Linked DNA regions of Homo sapiens. The protein of the gene in region 7 purifies or fractionates together with the protein of the main gene of each other region. This does not show direct contact. Each region holds a gene or a part of one and is shown on either strand. Other genes may lie near its edges. The genes, in order: COG5, TNPO2, CIP2A, TNPO1, CDS1, XPO7 and VSIG2.

Region 1 (4,054 bases), on a different chromosome or scaffold from region 7:
AATCAGAATTTTAGAGTTAAAATAACCTTAGAAGGCATCCCAGTCCTATCTAAGGCACTCAAAGAAACTAAGACACAAAAATGATCAAGTGGATATGTCTCAGGTTATACCAAATCTATGTTTCCTGGTAAACAATCTATGTTTCATGCATATGTTCATTCATTTAAATATGTATTAAATACCTACTCAATCAAAGGCAACACTAGAAATTATGCCATAAAATCGCCCTATAAAATTTACAGAATTTTAGTAGAGGAGGGAATCTTCAAAGTTATCTACTACAGTCTCCTCTTCCTCTTGCTTATTCCAACCCATCTGATAGATTAAAAAACAAAAAAGCAAGACTCAAAGACTTTAAGTGATATTAAAGTCAGTTAACAACAGCATAGCTGAAATTAGGACCCGTCGCCTAACATCTCATATTGTATCCTACTCACAATAACATTTATCAACTTTCTGTAATTTCAGCAAATGCTACACTTTGTGCTAATAAAGTATGAATTGCGAATGTAACATCCCAATTTTTCTTATTCATATTGTTTTACTTCCAAAATTCCATTTTCTATTATCTTTATCGAACACATCCTATTTTTTGCCCACTATATTCGTTGCACATCAGTTAAGGTGGTGAACAGGAAGTATGAATGAAAGGCTTTGGTGAGGTGGTATATTAGTTTTTCCACAAACAAAAAGTGGTTTACAGAAAATTTCAAAAATTTACTTTGAAAAATAAGTCACACTGGTAAGTATGTACTTCTTCATGTAAATATGCATTTGTATTTAATAAGATTACAAAAATGCTAAATTATCACTTTAGGCTGAATAATCCATAGGGACCCAGAAGATCAGAATTACCTGTAAGTGTAGTTCTCTGTCCAACTGACTGATTCCTTGGGCAAGTTTTGCTAGTTGTTCAGCAATTACAGCTTGATGAATAGATTGAGAAGTATAAGTCTTTACATCAAAGTCTTCGTTTAAAAAGTCACTATAACACCCTGGATTGGGGAAAAAATAAGGAAAAGTCCTTAATTACCCTGTACTAAACCAGTTATTAAACAACAGAACAATTATAATCATAATTAACATATTTTGATCCCATACTCTGAACCACTCCACTATACTGCTTAATGCTTACTTTTATCATGACCCTAAAGGAAGTATAACATTGAGAAAGAGATTAAAAAACATAACGACTGGCCAGGCACACTGGCTCATGCCTGTAATCCCAGCACTTTGGGAGGCCGAGGTGGGTGGATCACCTGAGGTCAGGTGTTCAAGACCAGCCTGGCCAACATGGTGAAACCTCAAACCCCATCTCTACAAAAATACAAAAATTAGCTGGGCATCATGGCGGGTGCCTGTAATCCCAGCTACTCGGGAGGCTGAAGTGGAAGAATAGCTTGAACCCGGGAGGCACAGGCTGCAGTGAGCCGAGATCGTGCCATTGCAATCCAGCCTGGGTGACAGAGCAAGACTTTATCTCTGGCCGGGCGCGGTGGCTCACACCTGTAATCCCAGCACTTTGGGAGGCCGAGGCAGGTGGATCACGAGGTCAGGAGATCAAGACCATCCTGGCTAGCACAGTGAAACCCCGTCTCTACTAAAAATATAAAAAAAATTAGCCGGGCGTGGTGGTGGGCGCCTGTAGTCCCAGCTACTCGAGAGGCTGAGGCAGGAGAATGGCGTGAACCCGGGAGGCGGAGCTTGCAGTGAGCTGAGATTGCGCCATTGCACTCCAGCCTGGGCGACAGAGCAAGACTCTGTCCCAAAAAAAAAAAAAAAAGACTTCATCTCAAAAAAAAAAAAAAAAAAAAACCATAACTACTAGCTATAACTATTAATCCAAGAAAACAAGATCATTGTCAGTGAAAAGACAACAGGAAAATTGACTCTATATATATATATACACATATGTAATATTTATGGCCTCAGATATCTCTAGATCAATACACAAATACTGTTATAGCAAAGTGAATCTGGAATTTTAGTAACAATAGGAAATATAAATTTATAGGTGTTACTGAAATTTAGGATTTATGGGTGAAATATGTTAATGGAAAGAAAAGCTGTTTAAAATAGGCCCCTAATAGACAGAAAACAGAAGTAATACCAGATGTTAAAAAGATACCCCTCAATATAGAAATCCACAAATATGTGGATGAAAGAAAAATTAAGAGAATTGAAAGCTAAAAATAGATACCCAGAAGGGAGCTCATGGTAACCATGTACCAAATCTCCTAATGATACAGTAGATACAAGTAAAGCTGCCTTGAGAGAGATTATGAAACAAACAAAATAGAGTACTTTTAAGAAAACCTAAATTGTCTACATCTGCTATAATGTATGCTCCAAGAGGGGAAGAAGGTCTTTGTTTTGTTTGCTAACTCTTCTCCAGTGTCTGAACAATACCAGACACATGGCAGGTTCCATGAATTAACTAATCTATACATCAGCTGATGTATCATTAGTATCATTCTGGTAACAACCAACAACAAAAAGTAAAGGCTCATACTCTTGATTATTCTTAAAATGTAGTGGAATGAAAGAAGGAAACTGCTACTTTGGCTGCTTTTAAGTCTGAGAACCACATTTCCTTCTGATTTGCCAAGTGCTTCTCAGAATTAAGAGTCCTGTCAGCCAGACAAATGAAAAAAGCCATTCCAAGCAAAGGGAAGGTTTAGCAGTGGCAAATGCCATGGCATATTTTGAGAAACAAGGGGAATACTGATTTCAGTGTGTCTAAATCATAGCACATGTATATTGGACAGAAATGGTAAAGAATGACAGATGTGGTTCCAAAGGTTGGAGCGCAGTTTGAAAAGAGGTTTGTAAGACATTTGAAATGTTTAACCATATCTCATTTAACCCAAGAAATTGCACTATCAGCTTTATGTTACAGAACAATAATCCTGGCAGCTGTATAGAGGATGATGGAAAAAGGATTAGTCACACAGCAATGTGCTGAAGTTGCCTCTTATTGGCTCTTGAGCACAGACTGTTACATTTTCAGGAATTCTGTGAGCCAGTTGACCTTTCACACAGATATCTTAAAATCTACGATGGTGAGAGTATTTACACCATGGTAATCAGCAAACACTACAAAAATCAGGGCTTTTTCTATTTTCCCACAAAGCCAATTAACCAATACACCCAAGAAATAGAACCACAGAGGCCAGTAAAGTACTATGTTAACAGCCTAAGACATAATGAAGGCCCGACTAAGACCTGAATAAGTGGCACTAAGAATGTCAAAGTGACAAATTTGACAAATATTCACACTGCACAGGATGTAGGACTTAGTGACAAGCTGAAAATGGGTGATTAGGTAGAACAAACAAGGATTCCCAAATTTCTGGATTAAGCAACTGATACAGGAAATTTAGTTTTACACTAACTTAGACCACTAGACACTGAATATACCAAGATGAACATAAACTTCTGCCTCCAAGGAATTCATAATTTACAAGGGGAACAAGCACACATTTACCTAACAACATAGTAAACACAGATAACAGAAACTACCAGAGGAAAAGATTAGGAGAGAAGAACAGAAAAAGTGAATTCATTTCATTTTTTCATATGTAAACCTTGTACTATTTGTTCATATGTAGGTTTTCATGTGTATTATAGAACTAGCACTGCTTGTTTACTATCAAAATAGAAATGTCCATACAGGTTATGGAATGGCATATCATAAAAAAATTAAGATAGAAATGTCCAGTAGGCAGTTAAAAATATAGTTTTATAATTCAGAAGACAGGTAAGGAGCATACTGAAACCACAGACAAGACCAGATGATTTAGGAAAAAAAAGTTTTAGAATGCACAAAAAGGCAGGAAAATGAGGAAGATAGGAAAGTGGGGGGTGGACAGAGAAAATGAAAGCAATCAAAGAGACTAAAGAGTGCTCAGGGAGAAAGAGAAACAAAAAAGAATGGCAAAAGCCAAAAGAAGGGATAAAGAAAGTAAGTATTAGTATTGTCATAGAGCTTACAAAGATCAAACACAACGGGATGTGGCATTTGAGGGCTGACAGCCTTTAAAGAGATGAATTA
Region 2 (4,054 bases), on a different chromosome or scaffold from region 7:
TTTTTTAAAAAAAAAAAAAAAAAGGAAAACGAGAAGAACCAGGCTCCCCTTCCCTGAAGGTGTTTGTATCCCCCCATCTTGAGTAGCGAGGGGTTACCAATCCCATCAGACAGCCAATCCATCCACACACCCCAAGACCCAGCAGAGGATGCTTCAAAGAACTGGAATTACCAGAAAATTAAAAGGTATTTTTAAAACTTTTTTTTTTTTTTTTAACAAATGGCTTCCAGAGACCTGCTCGAGTTTCATGGGGTGGGCGTGCAGGGACACCCAGCTAATTTATGGAATGTGTACTGAGTGCCCCTTGGAATAGATGCAGGGCCTGACCCTGACTATGGAAAGACACAGGGCTTGGATGGAGGGTCTGGCGCCCAGGAGGGATGGATGGAGCAGGCCCCAGGATGCGAGACTCCAGTCAGACTCCAAAACACAAGGGGCTCCCCAAAGAAGTAGAAAGCAGGGAAGGAAAAAAAGGGAAAAAATGCTAAGGGGGTCTGCAAGGCCCAGTTTTCTGGCCAACTGGGAAGTAACTACACCCCCACCCTCTCTAGGGGAGCCCCTTCCACCTTGACCATGTTCCCAGACTATTCCGGAAGGTTCTCTAGAATTGCTGACCCAGTCTAGTAGGATCTCTGGGCTCACTGGGTACTATGATGAGCAGGAAGTCCCAGGGAGATGGAATAGGGAACAGGGGACACACCACCTTTCCCTTCCACCAAGCCTTGGTTTTCCTTTTTGCTGGCAAAAACCTGTGTCCTCTGTCATCATCAATTAAACGCCCCTGCCCCAGGCCTTGAGTTAAAACTGGGGCCTGAAACGTGAGAAGGGGGTTTCAGAAGCACAGAGAAACGGACTGCCCCTGAAGCTGCTTACAGAGAGAGATGCTCGGGGTAGGTGCCAGTAGCTCTGGCTACACCCAGCTCTCTTCAGGAAAAAGGTCCCAACCCAGTGTCTTCAAAAGCCACTGGAGCACACAGGAAGGAGAAACGGTGACCTCTGGCCAGCCCCAGCCACTCCAGTGGTTCTCACCCTGCGAGCTAGGCTAGGATAAGGACGGAGACACCACCAGCTGAGGCTGCAACAAAGCTGGCAGGGAGTGTGTGGAGTGGGTCCCAAGCATGTGCGTGCTGACAGGGCGACTCCCAAGGTCACCATCCTCCTCCCCCCGCCCCGAGATCCCGCCTGAGGCCCCCCACCCACCCAGCCCTCCCCAGTCACCGCCAATTCCGGCAAAACAGCAGAAGCTTCTTAAACTCTAGATGCAGGTTACACGGAAGGCCTTACGGGTTAACTCAGGGGTTCACTAATTCTACTGTCTCCATGCAGTCGGGGAAATGGTGGAGCGGCTGGCCCAGCCTCGCCGGTTATGGCACCCGCACATGCGTGTGGCCATGTGTGTCCGTGTGAGTGTACGCGTCCCTACGAGGGCCCCCCTCCTGACCTGCTCCTCCCTCACCTCATCCGAAGCCGGATTCGGTCAGCTGTGTAATTCCTCCCTCCCACGTAGCTGGCCCAAGTGGGCTGCCAGAGATGACCCTATTAGAGCCCAGGGGCCCTTGCCCACCAGAAGTCCCCCCCACCTCCCCGTTTGTAGGATGAGCATGGTGGCCCCACCCACCTGCCAGGAGGGCAAGTGGACGGATGGACGGACGGACGGACGGACGGGGAAGGCATCTGGATTTGAGTCCCACTCACTCCTCCCTAACCCCCCTCAACCAGGGCACAGCGACTTCCGGATGCAGCGCACTCCCCAGTAATCCCTCCGACGACGACGCAGACAGAAACCTGCAGGGGGAGGAGGAAGGTCATGGCCTGGGACCTTTCGGCCCCCAAGACAGTGCTGACTTGCCAGCTGCAGTCTCCTTACCTGGCAGTCTCCATGATCACCTAGACCCCATAGAAAGCCGCCAGCCTCTCCTTGAGCAGCGGCGGGAATTGCTCAGAGAACTGCTGCCAGTTATCTTCCCCAACTTGGTCTTTGAAGCCGTGGAGAATCTGTGGGGAGGGTGGTGGTGAGGGGTAGGCAGGGGCAGAACAAGGGGAGTGCGCCTCTTCCCCCATCCCCAGGCCCCATTGTTACCAGATGGTCTCACCCCTGCCTGCTCCCGGAACTAGATCAGGGCCCAGACAGAGCCTCACCTTATAAAACATGTCCCGAAGGTCATCCTTCGGGCTCACCCAGGAGGCTACAGCATCGCAGAAGAAAATAAAGTCCTGAAACGTGACGGATCCCAGGTGAGGGGCCGCCCGAGCCCAGCGCCCGCGCCTGCCCTCAGAGCCCAGCTGCCCCAACCTGCACAACGCCCCCCGGGTTGACACCGATCATCATGCAGATGCCGCGGAAGGCTGAGTCCTTCTCCTCGTTGTCCCTGATGTTCCTGAGGGACGTGCACCTGTGGGAAGGTGAGCAGCTGGAGGTCAGAGGGCAGGCTGGGCATGCATCTGTGGAGGGCTGGGTCACTGGGGATCAGTGAGTGGGCCTGGGACATGCATCTGTGGGGGTGGGGCAGGGCAGGGAGTCAGTAGGCAGATGGGGCTGGAAATGCACAGGCGAGGGAGGGGGTTGGGCCAGTCCCGCCCACCACACAGCAGGCTTGACACGTGGACACACACCAAGGCCGGATGAACTGCTGCAGCATGGGTGCCACCTCCTGGGGGCACACGTAGCCCAAGCGGCCGATGGTGATGGCTGGAATGGCAGAGGGACTCGTCAGGCGACCTGCAACCCCGAGCGGCCCCGGGACGGTACGTGGCGGGGCCTCTGGCACAAGGCACCAAGCCCCGCCCCATGAGCCCCAAGGGAATGGCTACTGCAGCCACCCTGGTCCCCCAAGCTTGGCCCAGCCAGGGGTCCTCCTCATCACACCTGAGTCACTTCCCAGGTCTCTCTGCATCTATCTTTCTTTCTTTCCTTTCCCTTTCCTTTTTGTTTTTTTTTGTTTTGTTTTGTTTTTGAGATGGAGTCTTGCTCTGTTGCCCAGGCTGGAGTGCAGTGGCATGATCTTGGCTCATTGCAACCTGCCTCAGCCTCCCGAGTAGCTGGGATTGCAGGCACGTGCCATTACCCCCGGCTAATTTTTGTATTTTTTAGTAGAGATGGGGTTTCACCATGTTGGCCAGGCTGGTCTCGAACTCCTGACTTCAGGTGATCTGCCTCCCAAAGTGCTGAGATTACAGGCATGAGCCACTGCACCCAGCCTGAGGCTGCATCTTTCTTGGGGCTTCTCCCAGTGACCCCTTCCAGGTACTTCCAGACACCCTCCTTGGTTCCTTGACAAGGCTCTTTCTGATGCCCTTCCCAGCCCAGAACCCCACCTCCAGAAGGCAGGCAGGGGTGCAGGCAGCAGCCGGGCCAGGTGCCCACCTGTGTTTTCCAGCAGTGTCTTGGGTGTGTTGGGTCGGTTAATGATTTCCACCAGGTTGTTGAGGACCATCTGCACATAAGGCTGCATCTCTGCCCCTGGGGGAGCACCCAGTCAGAGCCCTGCACAGCCCCCGCCACCCACAGGGGCCAGGGGGCCGCCCCACCTCACTCACTACTCGCCCCAGTTCCAACTAGAGACTGGCCAACCACTACCAGTGAGGAAACAAAAGACCTTCTCCGGCTAATCCCCACCCAGAATCCCTGGCCAACCAGGGACAGACCCACACCCTCCAAACAACAGAGGCTTCTCTGGAGTCGCTAAGGTGACAACACGCTGCCCAAGTCAAAGGAAAAAAAAAGCCAAAGTCACCCAACCAATCCGAATGAGTCTTTTAGCCAACTACACAAAACGGTCCAATCAGAACAGCCCTCCTATCCCTCCTCTTTAGAGAAGCCAATCACAAATGACCTTTCTGCTTGGCTCCACCCCTGACGACCCCCAAGAGACTTGCCTTGAAGGAAGCTGTCAGTCAGAGCTAGGCTCCCGCCCCCAGGTTGAGAACAGGCTAATGGGGGGCGCGTGTTGCCACTTGCAGGGCACTCACCCATCTGCATGCAGATTTCACCAATGGCCCAGGTGGCGTTGTTGCAGACGGAGATGAACTCTGGGTTCAGGTTGGTGCCCAGAAT
Region 3 (4,054 bases), on a different chromosome or scaffold from region 7:
AAGCTTACTTCCATACCAGGAACCAATGGTTTAAGTTTGTTAATCAAATCAAGAGTTTTCAAAATTACATCAGCAGCAAGTTTGCTTTAAAGATAAATCACATTTAAATTAGATAACTGAAAAATTTCTTAGAGCTTGTTTCTGTCCAAAATTCTAAAGAAAATGAAAAAAACCAACACTTGTGTTTTTTAAATTCAAGATGATAAAGTCCTGTTTCTATTGAGAAGTAAAAATCTCAATCAACATTCTTATAACTCAAGATCCAAAGAGAACAAACTGGCATTAATAGCCTTAGTTTAGACAGTGTTTCTTTTACTACCAACCTGCTTCAACTTTCTGTTTCAAGTAAGTAGTAGTTTCGAAACACAGTTCATTTAATTCTTAGCTTTGTCACTAGAATATCAACAACAGACGGTAACCTTAGGCAATATAGAATATCTAATACGTAATGAATGAATTACACTAGGTCATGTTCTGAGTTTTGTACCTGAAAGTAGTATACAAATATAAAAACAGATAATTCTTACTCTAAAGGTCCACAATTACTGACAATTGTGACATCTGTGGAAACAGAAACAAATCATAGTGTCTACCACTCAGCAGGTCCTCAGTAAAGATTAGATGGACTTAATTCATGAGGAGGGAAGGGGTATAAAGTAATATCTTATTACCATCAGTGAAAATCCACCTTTAACCATAATTCCTGACCTGCCAAGGAAGGAGAGTTGTCTGTTATTAAAAAGCCTTTAGCAGTGACTGATTTCCTTGTAATAAAACTACTCTTCTGTTTTTTCATGCTTTTCATTTAAAAAAGTAAAATTGATTACTGAGGCAATGTCAAAAAGGAGCTCCAGAAATGTTCAGAACCCTTAGATAATTATAGTAAGTTAAAACAAGACAAAACAAACCTAAACAATAAAAAACAACAAATGTTAATACCTTTCTTCAAAAAGCACACAATCTACAAATTGAATGAATTTACAAAAAATTCATTATGAAAATATGTTTGTTAATCTGTTATATCTTAAGTTATAACCAAAGGATGGTCCTCCAAAAGGATGAGAATCACCACATCTTTCGATTTTTTACTGCCTTGCCATTTTGTCATTAGAGTTTATATACTCACCATAATTCAGAATCTGCAACCTTTGTTCCAAATCCCAGGTCAATCTTGCCATATGTAAATTGTTGTTCTATAAGAGTGGTACACTTGACAGTTGTCAAGATTTTTGCAATATGCATTTTTAGTGTATCATCTCCACAGAGAGGTTAAGTTTTGTTAAGATATACAACAAAAAAATTCTCACTTTATGTGTAAAAGATAACATTCAGGATGATTTCATACAAATTATATCATCACTGTCATCCAGTATAATTATTGTTAAATTAGCTCAATGACAAACAAGGAAACTGAAACTCACACAATTTAAATGACTAGCAAGTGGTAAGAGATGGACTGGCACCAAAGGTTTCTGACTCAATGGTTAAAACAGCGAGGATATCTTTCCATTGGATGTCTGTTTTTTGTTAGCAAGAATCTCAATGGTTCAATAAATATTTATTGAATAAGGGTAAGTTGTTTTGTCATATTTGTATATTATAAATTAATGTAAATAGCTATTATTTTAAAAGTTGTGGTCCAATTCAATGAGAAGGCCCCACTTTATTAATTATAAATATCTCCAAGGTCAAGCAATCATGTATCCCTACTGCAGTGGTTCTCAACTTTAGCTGCATGTTAGAATCAACCAGGTAGTTTAAACAATCACAAACAAAAAAGCCAACATGCAAACACACACCACCTAATGATTTCAGGGTTTCACATCACTCCAATTAAATTAGAAACTCTTGAAGTAAGGTTCTGGCATCGATTTTCTTTTTTTTTTTACATGTTCTCCAGGTGATTTTAGGTAGGAAATCAGGGTTGAAAGTCACTGCTTTAAAGGAAGAAAATTAAGGAGCAGTACCTTAGAAGAGGATATTAAACAGGGGTGGAGTTTGCTCTAGGACAGAGTAGAACATATTCTTGTTGCTCTGAGATACAAGGAAACCTGACTAGATACATTTAAGAGATCTGGTTGAGATACAGTGGCTCTTTGCTCATAGTAAAAAAGTATTAATGAAATATTTTAAAATTGGGACTTCCAGCAACTCAGAATTAGTTGGTCTATGAAAAAGTAAACACAAGGAAGACCTAGAAAATCAGTATATAGAAGTTAAGCAGTGAAACTAAAAGGTTTCTTTTTAAATGAATGAATTTGTGTTGATATACTTGTCTTTTCTTATAACCATTATTAAAGCAATTATGAAGGCTTTATTTTTAAAACATAAGGTAAAACAACTGAGCTAAAATCATGACAACTCTATCAGCATTTCTTTATCCACGAATACACATCACCAAAAAATGGCACTACTGATCGTCCGTCCAGGGGAAATAATTAGCATCAAGCAGAAAACAGTAACATGGAGTAACAGAATAGTCATTTTAGAATTTACCACCAAATGTCAAATTGTGATACAAGTGTCAAAATCAAGCTTAAACAGCATTTTAAAAAATGTACTTTAACTTAAAAGTTTCACACAGAAAAATAAGGAAAAAAAATCATGGATCTTTTTCACTCATTGAGAATTTTTTCTACAGTTCAAATTTTAGTTCAGTAATTCTAGATAAATATGAGCATAAAGTGACAAATTACAAATAAAGACAAAATGCAGTGAATGCAATACTAGAAAAAAAAGAATGGTTAGTTATACAGTTTTCACGTTAATGACAGTAAAGGATATTTAACAAAACTTCAATGGCCTTGGCAATCCTTTCACATTTTTTTCTTGTTAAAGCCTCATCTAGATTTTGTTCTGTGAACTGAAGTTGATCAAGGATTGTAGGCAGCAGAAGGGTCACAAAACGATCAGCCGAGGAACAGTTAGCAGCATCTATGACATCCTGGAGAATTATCCATCACAAATGATTAAAAGCAAAGATGGAATATACAATACAGAAAAAGTCATCACTGAATTGTAACACTCTCTTTAAATTTTTTATATTTCCTTCAATATGCCATTGACCTAAGTCTCCTGTGAATATTTAAATTTTTATTTAAAATTTATACTTCTAACCAGTTTTGAGGGCTATGGCTTTTTTCTCAAATTAGACAGTAAGGTTTTACAAATAAGACTTTTTTAAACAGACTTTGTGATTTAAAAATTATTCTAAACTAAAAGTATCTACTGAAAACAAATATCCTGAATCTGCTAAAAGTAATAACAATAATTAAATAATAGACATTGGTCTTAATAGTTTATGACCACAAATAATTTCCCTCAAGACCCTCAAAGGGCTTTTTAAATGTTAAAACTGATTGTTAAATAATCAAGACCAAGATAAAATAGAAAATTTTGTGAATAATTCTTAATGAACATATTTAATCACTTCATACACATATTTGTTTGTGTGTAAGACCCAGTTATGTGAAGGGAAATACTTTCAGGAGATATTGGGTTAGACAGAATGGATTTATAAACAGGGAGAATAGTAGAGAATATTAAATTGCCCAGATAGTAAGATCTACCAGAATGTGGAGTTTTGTCTGTATCTTAAGTGCCTAGCACATTATCTGGCATGCTCTACTCCATTTCACTGACTGAATCCAATATGCCTCTATTGTCCATTCAATGGCCTACTAAACTTGGTAGATGGCATCTATTGCAATGGAGAGACAATGTAACTATCCCCAGTAGTCAGGCAACAAATTATATAAATCTTTTTAATATCTTTACTTATTACACTGAAATGAGCACTATATATATATATACATACACACTACTCAGTGAAAAAAAAGGAAAACACTAATATATATGACTGGCAGAAAAAAACCTAGCGAGTCTAGTATGACTGTTAGTAATTGAGATGTTTTCCTCAAGTGTATGAACTGTAAGTTTACAAAGAATGTTTTTGAAGACAAATTGTTAACTGAGAGTCACAAAAGTAGAAAAGTCAATCTGTCAGTCATCCTATTACCTCAAATATTTCCTTGAACAACTCCAATGCTAAAAC
Region 4 (4,782 bases), on a different chromosome or scaffold from region 7:
CAACTACTTGGGAAGCTGAGGCAGGAGAGTCGTTTGAACCCGGGAGGCAGAGGTTGCAGTGAGACAAGACTGTGCCACTGCACTCCAGCCTGGGCAACAGAGCAAGACTCCATCTCAAAAACAAGACAAAAAACAAAAAAAACCATGACAGTTATGCACACATACTCCCTGAAATGTGTTAATACATTTAATTAGTAACATGCAACTATATTAATGCCTTACAACCTGAAGAAAAAATTACTCTTATAAATGTTAATTCCCCAAATTACAAATCTTAACTGTTTGAAGGATAAAGAGGAAGCCTTAATAGGACATACATTCATACACACTCATGCAATCTCTCCTTACATCAACTTTTTATATTCACAATTTCGCCTTTAATTCCTTTTACAGAATAGTATGTCCCCTATCCTCAAACAGCAGAACCTATAATCAACTGTTTAAAACACATCAAGGAGTTAAGTTAAAATGTGGAAAAACAGGTTTTTACTATACTATACAAATAAGAAAACACTTGTTTTAAGAAATAAATGATGTTCAACAACAAAAGTGTACTAATGTGTAAGCTAAGGAAAAAACAAAACAAAACCTCAAACTAAAAACAAGGAAAAAAATCCCAAAAAACATAAGGCTTATCTAGATCCAAAATGGGGTAAGAGGGAAAAAGAAAACTCATTTCCTTTCATTAAAAATCAGAGTGCAACATCTATAGTTAAACAACTTTATTAACATAGTCAAGCAGTGATTAACATTCACATCTATTATGTCACATCATACAAATGTAAATACAAAATTACTACAGTACAATATATATTCTCTGCATGATCCAAAATATTTGGTGGCCCCAAAAAACTCTCTTTAAAATTCAGCAGCTTATCAAAAATTAAAACCGTATTCTATTTAAAATGGAGATCTGTTAGCACAGAGTTAGACTTCAAGAAATATCAATTTAGTACAGTTTGAGAAGTTGCAGGAGGATATGTTTGAAGGACACATTCTAACATAGTGTGGCAGGTACAGGAAACATCAGATTTAAAGCTTTTAAGCATAACTCATACAACCTAAGTTGTCAGCAGAAAGATCCAGTTATATTTGTAACTAAAGCTAATGCTACTAAATTATTGCACCCAATGTTAACATATTAAGTGTAAAACTGTTTTGTAATATGAAGTGATTTACCACGTTTAAACATCTCTTCTCACAAGATGATAATCTATTAAGTAAAACTAATTATACAGTATTGTCTAATTATTGTCTCCATAAAAATCACCCAAGCTCAATTTGCTTATATATCCACAAAGGAAAACAACAACACAGTAATATGCGGAAAGTACAGTGGAACCCCTTTATGAGGCCAATATTAGAAGGGGACCAACACTGCCTTATAGGCTAACCATGTTATAATAGGCTTTTAAAAAGATGTAATACCAGCGAAATAGCTAATCTTGAATAATACCAAGCCACAGTATAAGGAAATTCTATGGCAGATAAACAAAAACTGCAATAAAAGGAAAAACTGCTTTTCTTATTAGTGATACACTGCTTGGCAAATAGATTTGGCCTGGTTTTAAAATGTACAAGAGGTGAAAAAAAATCACCATTTTAACTTCTTTCAAAGTCATGCATACATTCAGCTATTATGCATCTTTTAAAAAACACAACACATTCTGGGATACAAACCACAATGAACAATTGTGTAATTTAAATGTATACCTTAAAAATTAATATGTATAATAACTAGGCATAAAGAATTATCTACGTAAGTAATGCTAATGGGTGAAAGATCTATGTAAGATTGAAAAAATTAGTCACAATTCACTTGGAAAGCCTAAAGGTGAATAAAACTAACTTTTATGTAAAATTTAATTTTAGAGAGGCATTAGAAGTATCTCCATATTTAATACAGTATAAAATGCACTAAGTTGGTATACAACGCTATATTGCATGGTATTATTACCAGATAATATTGTTAACAACACAGCTCATTACTGATCTCACTTTTCACTTAAATTATCCCAAGCCCTTAACTATCTGAAGACCAGTTTTCTTAAATGTTCCAAGGCCTATACTTCATTAACAACACTAGTAGCAAGTTAGTTTCCCCTCCTTGTATTATTTGCAAAAATAATTCAGTAAGCAAAGCTGTGTATGTTTTGAAGTATTATCAAAGGAAGGACTTAAATTGCAGTTATGCATGATACACTCTTCCCCTGGGAAGAATGCTTTTGCACCATTATCTGTTAATACATTCAATATGAATAATATAGATTTACCATATGAAGCAAAAAACCACTTTTTCCTCATGGCAAAGGACTTAAATTTAGACTAAGATGCAATTAATTTATTTCTGGCATTTCTGCTAGGCAGAATAATTTTATATAGGGGAGAAAAATTTCCACTTTCCTATTTTGAGAGTTTGAAGAAAATGACGACCATATGTAGCTCATTTTCAGGTAAACCTGTAGGCAAAAGGCTTGTCAGGAGGGCTTTATACCACCCCAGCCTGCTAGAATATTAGGAAAAAAATCAGACTAAATGGAAAGATTCTCAATGAAATACACTTAAAAAACAAAGAATGTAACTAGGATGACCCTTTATAAGCATGTCACCAAAGCAAAAACAATACAAGAGTATTCACCTGAGATAAAACTTGTATCTGAATATTTTATAACTGAGTAGACAAAGCATTTCAAGAGGAAAATCCATTGAAATTAGTTTAAAATATACATCTGATCCTATTTTACAATATATGCAATTTAAGCAATTCAGATCAATGAAAAAGTCTTAACCAAAAAAATCACAGTGTTTATCAATGTTAATTACAAAATGTATGCTACTTGTTTTGTTTTTAAGATGTAATGGCTTGGTTAAGTGTTTTAAAATCTATTCTTCTGAAATCTAACTTGCATAACAAAATCAAGTAGCAATAATGTAAAGCATCAGAACTGGCTCTTAAAAGATTATTTACATGTTGATTATTTGGGAAATAACCAACCAAAAAATATTAAAAAGTGATTTTTTTTTACACAGTATGAAGTCATTGAAGAGATTAGACAATACAAAAAGCAAAATTCTTTCCTGAATAAATGAATACCTGTGGCACTAAGTTCACTCGCTAATGGACTGTAACATGGAACTGCCAAACATGCATTTAAGTTATATTAATTACACTTTCTGTTTCCAACTTAGGTTGATCAGCAGCTTTGTTCTGTTAGAATCCTTCAAAGAGAGAAGCTCAAACAGGAAAAAGAAGGCATATATAAAACAGTAAACACTGACCTCCTGAGGTTCCTACAACATAAAAATATTCAAGTAGAAAATCTACATCACTTAGCAGCGGCTATTTCTGTAGTTGAGCACACTAACAGCATTTTAGTGTGTAAGGAGCAGATGAAGTAAGCCGTGCTTTAAGCATGCCAAGAGGCAGAAACACTGGAATGTAACAAAGACAAACTCACAATTTTATAGACATTCAGTCAACATTCAAAACTATTAAGACTACACCACAAGAATTAAGTTGCTTTATATATATCCCATGATGTATTAGATTTTATCAGAATAAATGCTAAATCAGAGCTTACCTCAAAAGATAACTTAAATGGCTTCTGCAAATTCCTGTTCTACACTATGTATCTGAAATATAAATTAGGAAGAAACAATAACCTCAAGGGGGAAAAATACACAAAGAATCCCAACTCAAATTCAGGTTGCCAGTCATATTTACCTAATTTTATTTTCTATTTTCAAATTAAATTTCATTTAAATAAAAAAAAAAAGTCAAGTGACTACAAAACTGGGTGCATTTTTAATAGTGTTATTCATCTGCCTAACTGGAAACTAATTTTTAATGAGACAGGTGACAATATTGCCTTTAGTCAATACAGAATTGTCAACCACAGGTTCAAATAACTTTACTGAAGATTGTTATGTGTTTGTTTTAAATCGAATTTGGTCATTTCAATTTAAAATACTCTCTATTCCAGAATATTAAACTATCTCTCATATTAGAATTCTAAGTATTTGAAGCACTACAGAATATCACTATAATCTAAGAATAAAAAAGCTACTCTACTCAGTTATTAAAGACTAACAGGGAGGCAAATTTTGAGCTCCCAGTGAAGCAATGGTACTAGAAAACAAAATGCTGTATACCCTTTGAATCCAACTTATAATATTAAAAATATCAGGCACTATAAAATAATTTAATTTCAGGCTCTACAGACTGAAATTTGCAAAGCCAAAGTAGAGGAAAGGTGAAAGAACGTTAAAAAACAGAACAAAACAAAACAAAACACACACACACACATAGTAACAAAAACCTTTCTACATGCTACCATGCATTTGAAATTTTTGAAACAGTATAAATTCACACGCACACAGCTCAAACTTCAGTGCAATGGCTGTATCATTCAACACTTTTAGAGAATAGAACCATGCAAAGAGGAGCAACTGCTTATAAAAATGGTTATTCAGTATTTATTCTGCAATGCAAAGGTGACAAACTAAAATATAAAAAGGCTGTTATGGCTTAACATTTTTGTTGCAGATTAAATATGCAGCATTGAAAAATGGAAAGGCGTGGCTTCATCTCTGACCAGCAGAGTTAAAAAGAAAAATCTCTCCATTTTCCTTCATCATCATGGGATACACTGTTCAGGCAATCCAAATTAATAAAGACTTGCACTTTCATATGAACACAAGATCAAGTGTACCAGTTAGGTTTTCACATTCACAGTATATAAGAAAATACACATGGAAGGAAAAGTAAAGGGTTAACTTAAC
Region 5 (4,054 bases), on a different chromosome or scaffold from region 7:
AGATGTCTGAGGCACCAATTTTTTTTTTTTTTTTTTGAGGCAGAGTTTCACTCTTGTTGCCCAGGCTAGAGTGCAATGGTGCAATCTCGGCTCACCGCAACCTCCGCCTCCCAGGTTCAAGTGATTCTCCTGCCTCAGCTTCCCAAAGTAGCTGGAATTACAGGTGTATGCCACCACGACTGGCTAATTTTTTATGTTTAGTAGACATGGGTTTCACCTTTTGGTCAGGCTGGTCTGGAACTCCTGGCATCAGGTGATCCACCTGCCTTGGCCTCCCAAAGTGTTGGGATTACAGGCATAAGCCAATGTGCCCGGCTGAGACATCCATTTTTTGACCTGTTCTCAAAGCAATAAATAGCCTTGCTCCTAATCAAACACTAGCAGTATAAAAAGTTTTATAGCAGGTAACAGATGGCTTGGACATTGAAAAAGTTCTTGGAAACCATGTACTGAGCACTCAGAGAGAAATAATTTGTTAAGCTACTCCTCAAAAATTATGGATTTTATGTAAAATGATTCAGATACAAAGCTGTACATGTGTGCACACAAAGATACAGACATACATGCTATTATTTGATTCCTCACTTTAACCAGCCACTCACCAGACCTGATGACACAGATCAGGAGGGTTCCACTGGAGGGCATGTCAACATCCTCTAGTGTAAGGCCTCCAAGATACCTTTCAAGGAAGGCACTGTATTTGGAAGGAAAACTGATTTGTAGAAGCAGCAACTTTCTGTCCATAATAAATGTCCTCTAAAAATCAAGGACTCGGTAAACTGGTGAATTTTAAGTTTTAAATTGTGTCAACTGATGTCAGTGATATGAGAAACACATTCTAAACCATTTGATCCATTTGATTTGTAACCCGTTCTCATCCATTTGATTTAAGCTAACACTAAAACCACTGGTATATCAAAGAATTAAAAATTCTACAGAAATCAGTTTCTTGTACAAATCTGAATCCCACTTTTAAAGAAAGCTTAATTAATCTTCAGGCCAGGCACAATGGCTCATGCTTGTAATCCCAGCACCTTGGGAAGCCGAAGCAGGCGGATCACTTGAGACCAGGAGTTTGAGACCAGATTGGCCAACATAGCAACACCCGTCTCTACTTAAAATACAAAATTTAGCGAGATGTGGTGGCGAGCGCCTGTAATCCCAGCTACTCAGGAGGCTGAGGCCTAAGAATCACTTGAGCAAAGGTTGCAGTAAGTTGAGATTACGCCACTACACTCCAGCCTGGGCAACAGAGGGAAACTCTGTCTCAAAACAACAATAAATTAATTAAATAAATAAATAAATAATAAAGGAAGCTTAATCTTCAGAGTGGAAGATCTCTAACCATGTTTATCTTGAACTTTTACTGTACCTGTCTCAAGACTGCCTTTAGAAAGGGTGGAAGTGAGTAAGTCTGAAGCTGGAAAAGTTCTGAGGGCTCACATTCTGTCACGAAGGAGTTTACATCACTTCGGTATTCCACTGGGCAGACAAAGTACTGGTATTTGGATAACACATAGGCAGCCTGATATTAAAAACAAAACAAAACAAAACAAAAAACAAAGCAAAAGTTCATAACACATTGACTAAACATATATCTTTTAAGTTATACATCAGAAAGGCCAGAGATAGAATGCCAGAATTTCTTTGTCTTAATATTTTGCTATGTATTTTCAAAGTTAAATGGTCATAATTATCCTAGTAAAAGACTTAAAAGACCTTTAGAAAAAAAAAGTTTTTTTGAAATCAATAAGATTGTAATCTCTGCATAATCACAATTATACGGTACAGGAGAATAAAGAACTGAAGTATACTGCACACAAGCTTCTATTAATTTCATCAGTTAATAATTAACCAGTAATTCAAAATTACAATAAAATAGTACAAAATAGTACAGGTTAAAAACACCATTGTTCTTAGCCAACCCAGAAAACTTTGACTAAATTATTCTTTCCCTGGCCACACCATTGCAATTTTTAAAACTAGCTGTCCACAGCCTTGGAAATAAGATACATAAAATAAGATATCCTGTTATAAATTTAAATTGCTAGACAACAGCTTATTCTCCTTTTCTTGCAGCCATTCACCCTATTATTCTGCTCGAGAATGAGTAATAGAAATTCAAGACACTAGGAATGAATATAAACTGATTTTGCTTCCAAACAACCAGTTTATTTTATATATATAAAATATATATTATATATATTACATATTATTATATATATTATATATATATAATTTCATATAGATGTGGAATTTCCTTCCTCATTATTTTGTCATGCATTACATGCTTATGGGGTAGCTCCTACTTTTCTTCCAATGATATGGCTATTCCTGTGGTATTTTCAAGTTAGTCTTTGATAATAACAAATTCTTACACTATTTAGCTTCATAATGTTTAATTATTCTCGCTTTGTAATGTAAAAACATTGGATGAGATTGGATCCTTTTGCATTCTTCTATCTGTCCATTATTATCTCATCAATATTCTACCACAAAAACACTGGAATAATTTTATCACATTTTATTAAAATTTTCATTGCAAATGAACTAAATTTATAAATTAAATAGAGGAATTCTGGTGGTTTCCAGGATCATGGCATATTTCCATTTATTTGTATATTCACTCTCTCCAGGCTTCATGTTGTTACTAGGTACTCTAGATTTGGATACAGAATGTAACCACAACTGTCAGAAACTAGGAAAAGTAAAGCTTCCTGACAGTACTTTTTTGTACATTTATCTTATATCCAGCTATGGTACTATACTCTCATTCTCACTAGACACCTTTTAATAAAAATCTAAATCCTATAACTGTAAACTAATTTGTAAAACATGAAAAATAGCTATTTAACATGCTAAAAGCAAACATTAATAGTTTATAGTTAGACTGTTTCTGCAAGTTGGGCCCACAACAGTAACCACCCACTGAGCCAAGTGGCCACCATGTGTTTAAGAAGGCAGAGCTTTTCAATAGTATTTGCATCCTCTGCTATTACACAAGGCCACCACCTGTCCCAGTACTTGTGCCCCGCCTAAGGCAGAATAGCTGTTAGAAACTACCAAACACAACAGCACAACAGTAAGTCAGCAAGTCAGCAAGACAGCATGGATGGCCATTAGAATTACCTGGGGGTGTTAACTGGCCTGGGATAAGGCTGAGACATAGATTTTGTTTAAGCTTCTCAGGTGATTCTATATGTAGCCAGGATAAGGGCTGCTGAGGTACAGAACTGGTTCTTTTCAGTAGGTTTCAATAAATATATTATTAGCATTTTGTGGTTTAATTTTTCTAGGTTTAAAATTAGACCAGTAAGCTTGGTATCATATTTCGAAATGTATACAAAATAAAAATCTTAGTAATACTCACAATGAATCCAAACACAACTGTGGAAAAGAAACCACCAATGAATCCTTCCCAAGTCTTTTTAGGAGACAACTAAAAAAGGGCAAATAAAATTAAAAAGCTTTACTGCACTCACAAAACTCACAATATATATATATATATATATATAAACTATTTCCTCAATAACTTGTACATCTCTCCTTACTTTTTCTCTTATTGGAATAGTTCAAAACCCTTTTTCCTTTTCTCTGATCTTGATTTACTAGTGAAAATCTCTCTAATAATATTTAAACACATAGTAGGCCCTCAAATATTTGAAATGCTGTGAATATGTGTTTGTTCATGTTAAATGGTCTAAATTTGTTCTGTCTCTCAAAAGAGTATAAACTCTATACTAAAATAACTGTCCCATGACTCTTATGCTAATATAAAACCTGATAATAGTTGGTGTAAGTTCTTGGAATAAGAATGAGACGTATTCATTCCAAGTACACACAGTCAGTATTGACCTGCTATTGGCCAAAAATAGAATCAGTACAACAAAACATGGACATTTTAGCACATATAATTTTCACATATTCCTAATATGCTATATACACACAGACTTCCTTCTGATATGGCAAAATACTCCAGAGCCCCAGATACTGTATTTGCTCAAGTATTGACATATCCTCTCTTTTTTCACAATCTATGTCCATTTCCAAGAAG
Region 6 (4,759 bases), on a different chromosome or scaffold from region 7:
AAGGGGCAAGACAGGAAGCAGGGAAACTAATTAGGAATCTATTACCAGAGCACAGGAGAAAGGTAATGGTGGCTTGGACCAAGGTGTTAACAGTGGAGATGGATGGAGAAGTGGTCATATTGGGTATATATTAGATATAGATTGAACAGGACTTGCAGGTGACTTGCATGTTGGGGACTGATAAGACTTGAAGAACCAACTCCTGAGTGTTTATTAGGAGCAACTGGATGAATGGTGGTACCATTTACTGAGGAAGGGAAGACACAGGGAGAAACACGGGGAGGTTGGGGTGCGGGGGTGGGGGAAGGGAGGGTGGACAGAAATTTGGGCCTGGCCCACTGTGAAACTGTTACCTCTATTCAGTCCAGTAGGGAATCCAAAGAATTTCCATTGCAATTGTGACTCTGAGAATATTTCATTGCCCGATGCCAGGTTCAGAAAGCCACTGACCCCATCACCCCGCCTCTTTATACGCTCGGAGCTAATGATTGGACGCTGGGAGGTTTTGGGGAAAAACAAAAACCCAACATCTGAAAAGGTCTATGCTCGCTAGAAGTTAACAGTCAAAAGCTCTGCCACTTAAATCTTCTGCCTCTTAAATCTTCTCTGAGTCAGCCTAATTGGCAGAGCCTAATTTGCATACAGAACCCTAGCTGCAAGGAAGTTTGGGTAATGTAGTTTCCAGGTGCCCTACCTCTGCAAACCAGGAAGACCTACTAGGAGGACGGAAGTCGAAATGAATGCTGAGCACCGGTCCACTACATCCACCAAGGGTGTGTAATTCACTACCACCATCATTTGCATATGATGGTAGTCCCCTGTAAATACAAACTTCAAACAATCAGTGCTCTCAGAATCCAGCTATGATCTAACCTGGGGGCCTTAAAAGGAAGCCACAGTGGAATCCAATGGAAAACAGGAACCGGCATTATCTAACAGATAATTCCTAGTGAGGAAGACTGGAATTGGCCTCAGCATGCAGGGGCTGACCTTATCTGACCCAGAGAGATGGCTTTCCCACTCATACCTCCACAAGACCGAGCCTAGGGGTCCTAACCACCAGCCCCGCTGCCTCTTCCAGCATCTGACCCTCTCGGGAGGCAGTCTAGAGTATTGGCAACGAGGACAATGTCTTTGGGAAGCCAGAACTGTGCCTTCGTATGTTTTGATCATCACCACCATTCGGTGGTTATTTCCATGAATGTTTATCAAGGACGAAAGGACAGAAATGAAAAACACGAGATCAACCACTGGGGTTGCTGGTGAAATCCAGACCAGAGAGCGATGGCCCTGGTCCAGAAAGCTAGACAGACACAAGCACAGAATCGGCCCCCGTTGAGTAGAGGGCATTGGAAAGTAAGGAATCTCGCAGGCAGCCTAGGTGGGGTGTGGGGGGTCCCCGTAGCTGCAGGGTGGGGTGGGGGTGGGGGTGGGAGACGTCCAGGGGCGAGTCAAGGGGGAAGACGGTTGGGAAGAGAGGAAGCCACTGGGTGCAGGGGTCCCGGGGCGGCGACAGACCTCGGCCCCCATCCAGGAGCCCTCACCACGCAAACGAGCAGAAGGCAGCGCCAACTCCCACTCCAGCGCCCGCCTGCCGGAGCGAGCGCGGCCCCTTTAAAAACCATGTAAACAAAGCTTTGTTCCCCCAGCTGCCCCTCCTTCGCGCTCCCCCGGCCCGCTCCTTCCTCCCACCCGGCGTCTCCGGGCCGCTGACGTTGCCCGCGCCTTTACGCCGTCCCAGCGGTGCTGCGCATTCTCCAACCACGGCCCGGGCCGCCGGGGCCTGCGCAGCTGAGCGGCGCTACGCCACGAGCGCAGCGCGACGAGTCCCCAGCGCGCAGGCGCAGCGGCGACGGCGTCGGCGGCGGCGGCGGCAGCGGCTCCGGCCGAGGTGCGCGCTGGGGGGGAGGGGGGGCCGGAGAGGAGCATGAATGGAGCAAAATGGCGGATCATGTGCAGGTGAGAGGAGCCGCGGGGGGGAGGGGGCGACCACGAAGAGCGGCGAGTGGAGTCGGGGGTGCACACGGCCCACAGGGCGCCAGCCGGCTCGGGACTCGGCAGGCCCGCGCCGCCGCCACTCGGGGCTCTGGAGCCGCCGCCCGTCCCGGAGCCCCGGGGCCTTTCCCGCCTCCCGGGCCGGGGGCCTTCTCCGTCCCCTCCCACCCGGTCCCACACCTCGCGCGCGGGGCTGCAGGGACAGGAACGGGCATCCCGGCGCGCGCAGCCCACAACGTTCGTCAGTCACTGTCTTCGTCCCCGGGGGAGGCCTCCGTCAAGTCCTCGGGCCCCCCCGCCCGCCCCCCGGTGAAGCGAGGGGGACCCCCTTGCTGACTTTACTGAGGGGGACGCCCCCATGACGCCCGCCATCCCTCAGCAGATAACAAAAAGGAAACCTCGCGCTGATAAACCTCGCTCTCCGGAGTCTTTCCCGCCGCCTTCCTCTCACGCCCCGGAATACGAGAGACCCCCCAGCAACCCCGGCCTCCTTCCCCCTCCCACGGATGCGCCCTTCCCTCCGACACTCCAAATCGTACAGCCCGGAGGGCCGAGCTCCCCGGTCTTCCAAAATGGGTGCTCAGGCCTCGGCCCGCCTCCCCTCGCGTCCCCCTAGCCACAGTGAAGGAGTTGAGCGCCCACACCTCCTATGAAACACGGGGTGGAGGGGGGTGTGTCTGAAATGAGAGATGCAGGGTTGGGTGCAGACGTTGCTCGGGAGGGTCTTGATCCGGCTCAAGAGCTGCTCCTAGCGTGCTGTGGGGCCAGGCCACTCTCCTCAAAGACAGGCACAGGCCCTAGAAAGGGACAGCCCATACCAAACCCAGTAGCAGATGGAGGACTGCAGGGTTTAATTTCTTGCAAACTAGATAAAGTTTTTCCTGTCTGTGCCAGAGATCTGATATTTTTATGACAGTTATTGATGCACATCCATTGTGGGGAACCTTCCAATTTTCTAGGTAACCAAGTGCACAGGTTTTGTGTTGTGGCAAGGAAAGATTAGAGGGCAAGAAGTGTCGCCTTTATATTCTGTGGCATCATTCCTCAAGTAAGAAGAATGATCTCATTCTTAATACGTCTACAAGAATCTGGAGTGGTGTGACTTCTGCCCCTTTCTTTGGAGAGAAGGGACTAAATAAAAGACTTAATTTTCAGGCCAGAGATCAGTAAAGTAGATCTTCGGAGTGTGCGGGACAAGTTGTCAGGACAGAATTATAGCAAGAAACGTAATCACAGGTGGAAAACCACGGGATTTGTGTTTCAAAGCCAGTACCTTGGCTTAATTCAGAAGTGACAGTAAAAGTTGATACAAGGAGATGATAATAATGATAATAATAATAGTATAGCACCTTGCGTTTTATAGCAGTCATTTCTAAGAAGCATGAAATATTTTATGTGATTTTTAAAAATTCTTGGATCTTACAAGACTCAGGCAGGAATTACTTCTGTCATTTAAAGGAACAAAAACCAAAGCACAAGAATGATAATGAGATTTGGTTAAGGTAAGTCTAAGTGTCCCAAAGTCTTTGGAGTTTGGGTCCAGTGCGCTTCCTTACTGGGGGTTGGGGGGATGTCTATGAGCATTCTAGAACAGGCTTTGAATAGATAGCCTTTGTGAACCATGCTTCGGAATGCAGAGGGAGTCAGTACTTTTATGAATATACATCGTGCTATTTGCTGTTTCCCGTAAAGAAATATCTCTTAATGTGATCTCCCACATTTTCGAAGCATAAAGGTTGTCATTCCTGTGAAAGTCAGGATGCATCAAAGCAATCTTCACAGCATTTGTCGCTCCAACGAAGGTCTGTCTTATTTTTAGTAAGATGTTGTTCTCCCACTCACCACTCAAAAATCTACGGAAGTAAGAATTTATTAACTTTTCAAAACAAAGGGGAGCATGTTGATCAGTGTTTTATTGGTACCCTTTATTTACTTTTAAGAGCTGCAATCTGTTGGTCTAAATTAGTGCTTAGTGGTCTTCATATCAACGGGGTAAGTTTGTGAGTGAATTTTTTTCCCTTTAGAGAGAATGGGACATACTGCTTTTCTTTGTCAGACCACTAAGTGTTAATAGTATTGGGCACTCACAGATGTTAAGGTGGTACTTTATTGTGGCAGAAAACCTTCTTATGAAAAAGATACACGCTTCCCTAGGTATAATGAGTAAATAAAGGATTCATTAAAGACAGTCTGCAATGCATTGAGGGGAGGGTGGCGGGGATATTTTTCTTATAACACTAATCAAACGTGAAGTTTATAAAGGTGTCTGCTACAGATTCATGACTGATTATTGGAGAGTTGCATTTGTTGAACTAAATAGTCGAGTCATTATGTTATCTAGTGCTTTTCTGAACCACCAGGGTGAGCAGTTTTTTCATAATTGAGGCTGAGTGTCATATGATTCTCGGGTTCTCTCAGGCTGATGTCTTGGATATCTCTCTTCTAAGGATATGTATTTTATGGACGATTTTAAGTGCTATAAAACTTTAGTAATGGGAAAATTATAATATTTGGATTGCCCTTTAGCTCTGTTGATGTTACAGGCAAGTGTCTGTAGAAGTGTGCCCTTAAGCAGCTCCTCGATGTGATGGGTTTCTTACTCTTGGTCTTAGATAACCTTATCTAACTTTCACCCTGAAGGCAGGGTGGTTACAAAGCTTTGCGTGGGAGAAAAAAATCAAACTTACTTATGTGTGTTTAATTATGTTTAGTTGCCCTTCCTTTCATGTTTTTTTTAACATATCTAAAGCTGGTAAGTTATCGC
Region 7 (4,847 bases):
GAAGTTTGGAAGTGGTCCACGACCCTTAGGAAACCTAAAAGAAATCTCCCCAAGGCAGATGGGTGGTCATCATCAGATTGCTCCCTGCCCTCTACTCTCTTCCAGGATATCAGCAGTATATTCAGCTTGAGAAATACCCCCAGGATCATGCAGCCACAGACTGCAGAAAGACAGGCAGGAGGGAACAATACAGGAAGCCAAGGAAGAGACAGGGAAAGGTATAGTGGTTTGTGTCATACCCCTAGTCATGGAACGGATAATACGGGTGTGTGGGATTTAGAGACCAGATTTGCCCAGGTCTCCAGTACCCTCTTCCTGATGCCCTGGGCCCTTACCTTGAACCATGCTGCCAGGAGAAGGTGTAGGAAAAGTTCCAAGACGCACCCAGTTGTACACTGGCTTAGGAGCCCCCTCGGAAGAGCTGCATCTCAGTGCAGTAGAGCCTCCCACAGAGGTTTGTCCACTCTGACTGCATAAGGGATTACTGGGGGGAACTGCAAAAAAAAAAAAAAAAAAAAAAAAACAGAAAGTTCCTCAGCAATCTTCCAGCCCCACTCCCAACTCCATTAGGTGCTACATTCTCTACTTCAATACCCCTATCAAACAGTGGTCCTCTTGGGTCCACACACCACTGCATCCCCAGGAACTGAGGGATTTCCACTATTGGAAATTCTGATTGTTAGAGAAAATTCTTCTTCATGTTGAGCCAAAATGTGTGTTAACATAACCTCCACCCATTGGTTTCAGTTCCTGCCCTTTGGGCCCACAAAGAGAAATTAAAATCTCTCCTCCACATGACAGCCCTTTGGATAGTTGAATCCAGCAGTAATACACCCATCCGAGGCCTTCTCTTTTCCATCTAAACACTGCCAGTCTCTGTGATAGTTTTTCTGGTTGCTCATCTCTGAAAAGGCTCTAGTTTGGGGTGAGACAGAAGCTCTGAGCACGAAGTTGGTGCTCAGTAATAGGGGCCCTTGTTCCTTTGGTGGCCACTCCCCTTCTCTGCCATTGACCTTGGGAGGGACAGAATCCAACTACCGATGAGAGCCTCCCCCATGATGGAGCTGCTGGGAGCAGGCTCAGATCCCCATGTATGGGAAGGACTTTCTCTCACACACTCTGTTATTAGGCTCTGATGGAGGAGATGCTCTCGGTGGAGGGTGGAGTTGGAGTATGACCATCTGAATTAGAAGACTTGGAAAGGGAGTATTTTCACTTGGGGCCCCCAGTGCAGTTGTGTGCTTGGGCTAAAAGTCAGAAACCAGAGATTTAGCAAGACCAGTGCAAACGCCCCAAGTATGTGAAAGAGTATGTGGCTCGTGGATCCCCAGTCTGCCTTACCCAGCACAGTAAGGTTGATTAGCCCCAACCCATTGGTGTAGAAATCTGGTGGGTTGTTGACTTGGCAGAGGTAGGTTCCAGTATCTGAGGGGTGGACGTCAGTCAGTTTCAGTGTGGCCACCCCCACTGTGGGGGGGTTCTGAAGCAGGCTGACCCGCTTTGACTTAGAACCAGTTGGATACAGATGGCCATTGGTGAAGTACAGGATCTGGGGAGAGGCAGAAGACACACATATGTGCCTGTTTCTGCCTGGCATCAACTCTACAGTCCTTCCTCATCAAAGTGGGTATAAGAGGCCTCTGACTTACATCAGCCAGGGAGGCTGATACCCTTAAGCTGGAACTCCAAAGGTCTCTCTGTCCCCAAACACCACCCCCTTTCAGGTGCTAAATGAACCTGATCCATTGGTCTCTCTCTCTCTCTCTCAAAGAGAGAGGCAGAAGAGGCAGCATATTATCTTGGTATCAGTCACAACACCTTAGTGTCAATGGATACACTAAGGCAGGGGAGTTGGAAATAGGAGCTATGGAAGAGGAAAGGAAGATACACGGTCAGGCAGACTGCAGCTCTGAAAAGATCTAGGGAGAGCCCACTTACCTTTTCATCCAAGCATACTGATCCCCAAACTCCCCCTCCCGACCCCATGCCCTCATCCTGGGCTCCTGTCCCTCCAGGCCAACCCAGCTTCATGCAGTCGCTCTCAGCTCACTGGATGGGACTCAGAGATGGGTTTCCCAGGCTGCACAAAGCTCCACTCCAGGGCGAAGCTGTCTCCCACCGACGTGCTGTAGGTGCAGGTCAGCTCGGCTGTCTTCCCCAGGGGCGTGCTCAGCGGCTCTGTGGGTACCTTCACCTCCACGGCCAGCCCTGGGGCCGGGGACCAGAGGGAGGTGGGAACCCAAATTCCAGTGATCTGGAGGGTCGGGCCCACCCCCGGGCATCTATATTGGAAGCTGGGGGCTCCCTCCCCAGAGCACAACCCTCTCCCCTCAATCCAACCCCTCCCTTCCCAAAACCTGAGGTTTCCGGGAGGGGCCGGGTCTTTGTGGGTAAAAGAGCCGGAACCGGGCCAGGTAAGAGGGTGTGTGTGTTTAGCAGAGAAAGGAAAACACTAGCCCTGCGGTGGGGTGGTTCAGGCCTGTGCCGCGGAGAGGCCCAACTCGCTCGCCGGCTTGGGGGTCTCTCTCCTACGCCCTCCGGGCCTTGGACACCCCCTCTCCGGCCTCACCTCAGGCGCCTTAGGGCCCCTGGCGCCCACGGCAGCCTCATCTGGCCTGGCGGGGACAGAGTGGGTCCGAGGAGCCGGGGAAGCCAGGCCTATGCCCCCCAGCCCTCGCCGTGGTCCCGCCCGGCCCCTCCTCACCACTCAGGCACAGGAAGCCTAGCAGGGCCCCGCAGAGAAAGGGCCCCGGGAGCTCGGCCATGGCCGCGTCCGGCCGTCCTGTCCTGCTCCTGCCAGGTGGGCGGTCAAGGTCGGTCTGGGTGTCGGGCAGGGAAGGGAGCACCCAAGGGCAGCCGCCCGGGCTGGGCAGGAGCGAGACTGGTATCTCAGAGCAAACAGGGGAGAGGCCGGCGCCGCAGGTTAAAAAAAAAAAAAAGTGCTCCTCCCTCCTCTCCTCCAGCCCCGATTCTGCAATCCCTCTGTCCCTTCTTCCTCCTTCCTTCCTCTTCTCCCCAAGGTCTGAAGCTGTCCGGCCTTGGGAAAAGCGCTGGGCTTGGGGTGGGCCTTCTGCAGAGACGGAAGGAAAGCTGACTTTGGAAGGCGTCCTGATACCCCAGAGCTGGCAAGGGGAGTCCCCACCTCGGAGCCTCACTGTGAGTGTGAGCCCCAGGCCGCAGACCCTTCCTGTCCACAGCGCTTTTCATTTCACCACTTACTGAGGTAGGAGTCTCTGTAGAAATGAGCATCTCTCCATTTCCAGAGCCACTCCATTTTAGGGGCAGAGAAACTGAGACCTAAAGGAGACCTCACCCTTGGTAGGAAAGAACATGGCAGAACTTGGACACAGACCTGCACCTCATACTATGCCCAGCTCTCCCTCAGTAACAACAGAGATCTCTTCCAGATGGGCAAGGAGTGTTTTGTTAAGGATTCCGTGGTGTGGGAGAGGAGCCCACGTGAGCTTCCTCTCCCCTGTCCCTGAAGAGGAAGCAGATGAGGTACACGTACCCCCTAGCCGGGAGCACTCAAGCTCCAGCAGAAAGCGTATCAACTCCATCCCTCTGCTGTTCAGAGTAGCTTAGAGTCTCCTCCCCTTCTCCACGTGACAAACAAGGACCCTTCTAAACACTAGAAGAGCTGCTCTAAGCCTGTGGGGGGAAGCCCTCCTGGGTACACAGCTTGGGAAGGGGTCCACTTTGCATCCTCCTGAAGCTCAATTTCAAGAATTCTTAGTTTGAAAAGGCAACTTGTTTCTTATCTCATACAAACATTATGTATCTTTATTTAAATTTGCAAATGAAAACAACACATATTTCATGTTAGTTTTAATAAGAGATTCCCTATCCTCTGCCCCAGTAAAACCTAACCAAGCCAGCCTGACAGGTTATATCAATACAGGGAGCTGGAGTGGGAGCCAAGGGTGGTGTTAGATAGGGGTGGGGTACAGATCAAGGGGGCCTGGGAGACTCAGTGACTGGAAGTCTCTGCCCCTCACTCTTGGTGAGTAGCTAATTTCAGCAGCTGGCTTCATAAGGAGGAGTCAGGGGTGGGTGGAGGCTCCTCCCAATTCCAGATCCACTTCCTCTTCTCCTTCTGTCTCCTGGACACTTAGGTCTTACTGAGATGGTTTTCCCACAGTAAAGAGAGGTGGGGGCAGAGTACTAAGGGTCAGGAGTGTGACTCTTTCCCATGACTCAGGCCTCTGTGCTAGAGGTGACCCTTATAGGAAGGAGAGACCCCAAATCCTTTAGCCAATGAGTGGTGGGGTCATCATACCAGAGAGCCAGCTTGACTCTGGGCAGGCACCATCACAGGCACAGCACCCATGCGGCTCAAGCCAGAGGAAGAAACCCCACCAGGGATGGGGGATATTGGTTGAGGGTGGGCCCCATCTGTCGTGGGCAGTCTTGGTGAGGGCAGGGCCTGGCTGGAGAGACTGGGCGTGGGGGTCAATGCACCAGGCCTGGGAGGGCCATGGGGTGGCCGGAGGGCTCGTGCGGAGGTGACAGAGGAAAGGGTCCCATTCTTGGAGATTGTGTCTGAGCTCTTGGGCCAGGGCAGGGTCCGGGGAGCAATGGCATCCTCCCTAGTCATCAAAGAAATAACAAGAGGTCAGAAGTGGGTGGGGGAAGGAGGAGAGAGTTTCTACCTGCTTGGTCTTATATACCACCTCTGCCTGCACACTTCAGTACTCCTTTCCCTCTCCCTTAAAACCTGCCCATAGGAATGATGTTTCAGCCACTGACCCCATCCCAATAGATGAGAGCTGCCTGAATTCCCAGCCTCTGTGAGGAGAGCTGGGAGAGCCCCCGCTGCAGCAGACACCAGGGACACTTACTTGATA

The links.
Region 1: the proteins of VSIG2 (region 7) and COG5 purify together in Homo sapiens (affinity purification with mass spectrometry; 3 studies listed by BioGRID and IntAct, with this or other methods). This does not show direct contact.
Region 2: the proteins of VSIG2 (region 7) and TNPO2 purify together in Homo sapiens (affinity purification with mass spectrometry; 3 studies listed by BioGRID and IntAct, with this or other methods). This does not show direct contact.
Region 3: the proteins of VSIG2 (region 7) and CIP2A purify together in Homo sapiens (affinity purification with mass spectrometry; 3 studies listed by BioGRID and IntAct, with this or other methods). This does not show direct contact.
Region 4: the proteins of VSIG2 (region 7) and TNPO1 purify together in Homo sapiens (affinity purification with mass spectrometry; 3 studies listed by BioGRID and IntAct, with this or other methods). This does not show direct contact.
Region 5: the proteins of VSIG2 (region 7) and CDS1 purify together in Homo sapiens (affinity purification with mass spectrometry; 3 studies listed by BioGRID and IntAct, with this or other methods). This does not show direct contact.
Region 6: the proteins of VSIG2 (region 7) and XPO7 purify together in Homo sapiens (affinity purification with mass spectrometry; 3 studies listed by BioGRID and IntAct, with this or other methods). This does not show direct contact.

The regions. Positions count from the first base shown.
Region 1 is NC_000007.14:107,557,121-107,561,174, forward strand, and holds part of COG5 (conserved oligomeric Golgi complex subunit 5), read right to left. Parts: intron 996-4,054; coding exon 856-995; intron 1-855.
Region 2 is NC_000019.10:12,699,459-12,703,512, forward strand, and holds part of TNPO2 (transportin-2), read right to left. Parts: coding exon 3,970-4,054; intron 3,461-3,969; coding exon 3,365-3,460; intron 2,720-3,364; coding exon 2,614-2,719; intron 2,394-2,613; coding exon 2,294-2,393; intron 2,215-2,293; coding exon 2,140-2,214; intron 1,996-2,139; coding exon 1,888-1,995; 3' UTR 1,868-1,887; intron 1,786-1,867; 3' UTR 1-1,785. UniProt on the Homo sapiens protein: Probably functions in nuclear protein import as nuclear transport receptor. Serves as receptor for nuclear localization signals (NLS) in cargo substrates.
Region 3 is NC_000003.12:108,565,371-108,569,424, forward strand, and holds part of CIP2A (protein CIP2A), read right to left. Parts: coding exon 4,019-4,054; intron 2,945-4,018; coding exon 2,785-2,944; intron 1,269-2,784; coding exon 1,127-1,268; intron 85-1,126; coding exon 1-84.
Region 4 is NC_000005.10:72,910,314-72,915,095, reverse strand, and holds the end of TNPO1 (transportin-1), read right to left. Parts: 3' UTR 708-4,782; downstream 1-707. UniProt on the Homo sapiens protein: Functions in nuclear protein import as nuclear transport receptor. Serves as receptor for nuclear localization signals (NLS) in cargo substrates.
Region 5 is NC_000004.12:84,638,309-84,642,362, reverse strand, and holds part of CDS1 (phosphatidate cytidylyltransferase 1), read right to left. Parts: intron 3,440-4,054; coding exon 3,371-3,439; intron 1,526-3,370; coding exon 1,373-1,525; intron 1-1,372. UniProt on the Homo sapiens protein: Catalyzes the conversion of phosphatidic acid (PA) to CDP-diacylglycerol (CDP-DAG), an essential intermediate in the synthesis of phosphatidylglycerol, cardiolipin and phosphatidylinositol.
Region 6 is NC_000008.11:21,917,830-21,922,588, forward strand, and holds the start of XPO7 (exportin-7), read left to right. Parts: upstream 1-1,832; 5' UTR 1,833-1,941; coding exon 1,942-1,959; intron 1,960-4,759.
Region 7 is NC_000011.10:124,749,373-124,754,219, forward strand, and holds the start of VSIG2 (V-set and immunoglobulin domain-containing protein 2 isoform 1 precursor), read right to left. Parts: upstream 2,884-4,847; 5' UTR 2,766-2,883; coding exon 2,705-2,765; intron 2,209-2,704; coding exon 2,051-2,208; intron 1,550-2,050; coding exon 1,342-1,549; intron 495-1,341; coding exon 336-494; intron 1-335. Other genes in the region: ESAM (endothelial cell-selective adhesion molecule precursor), read right to left, coding at 4,274-4,589, 4,842-4,847.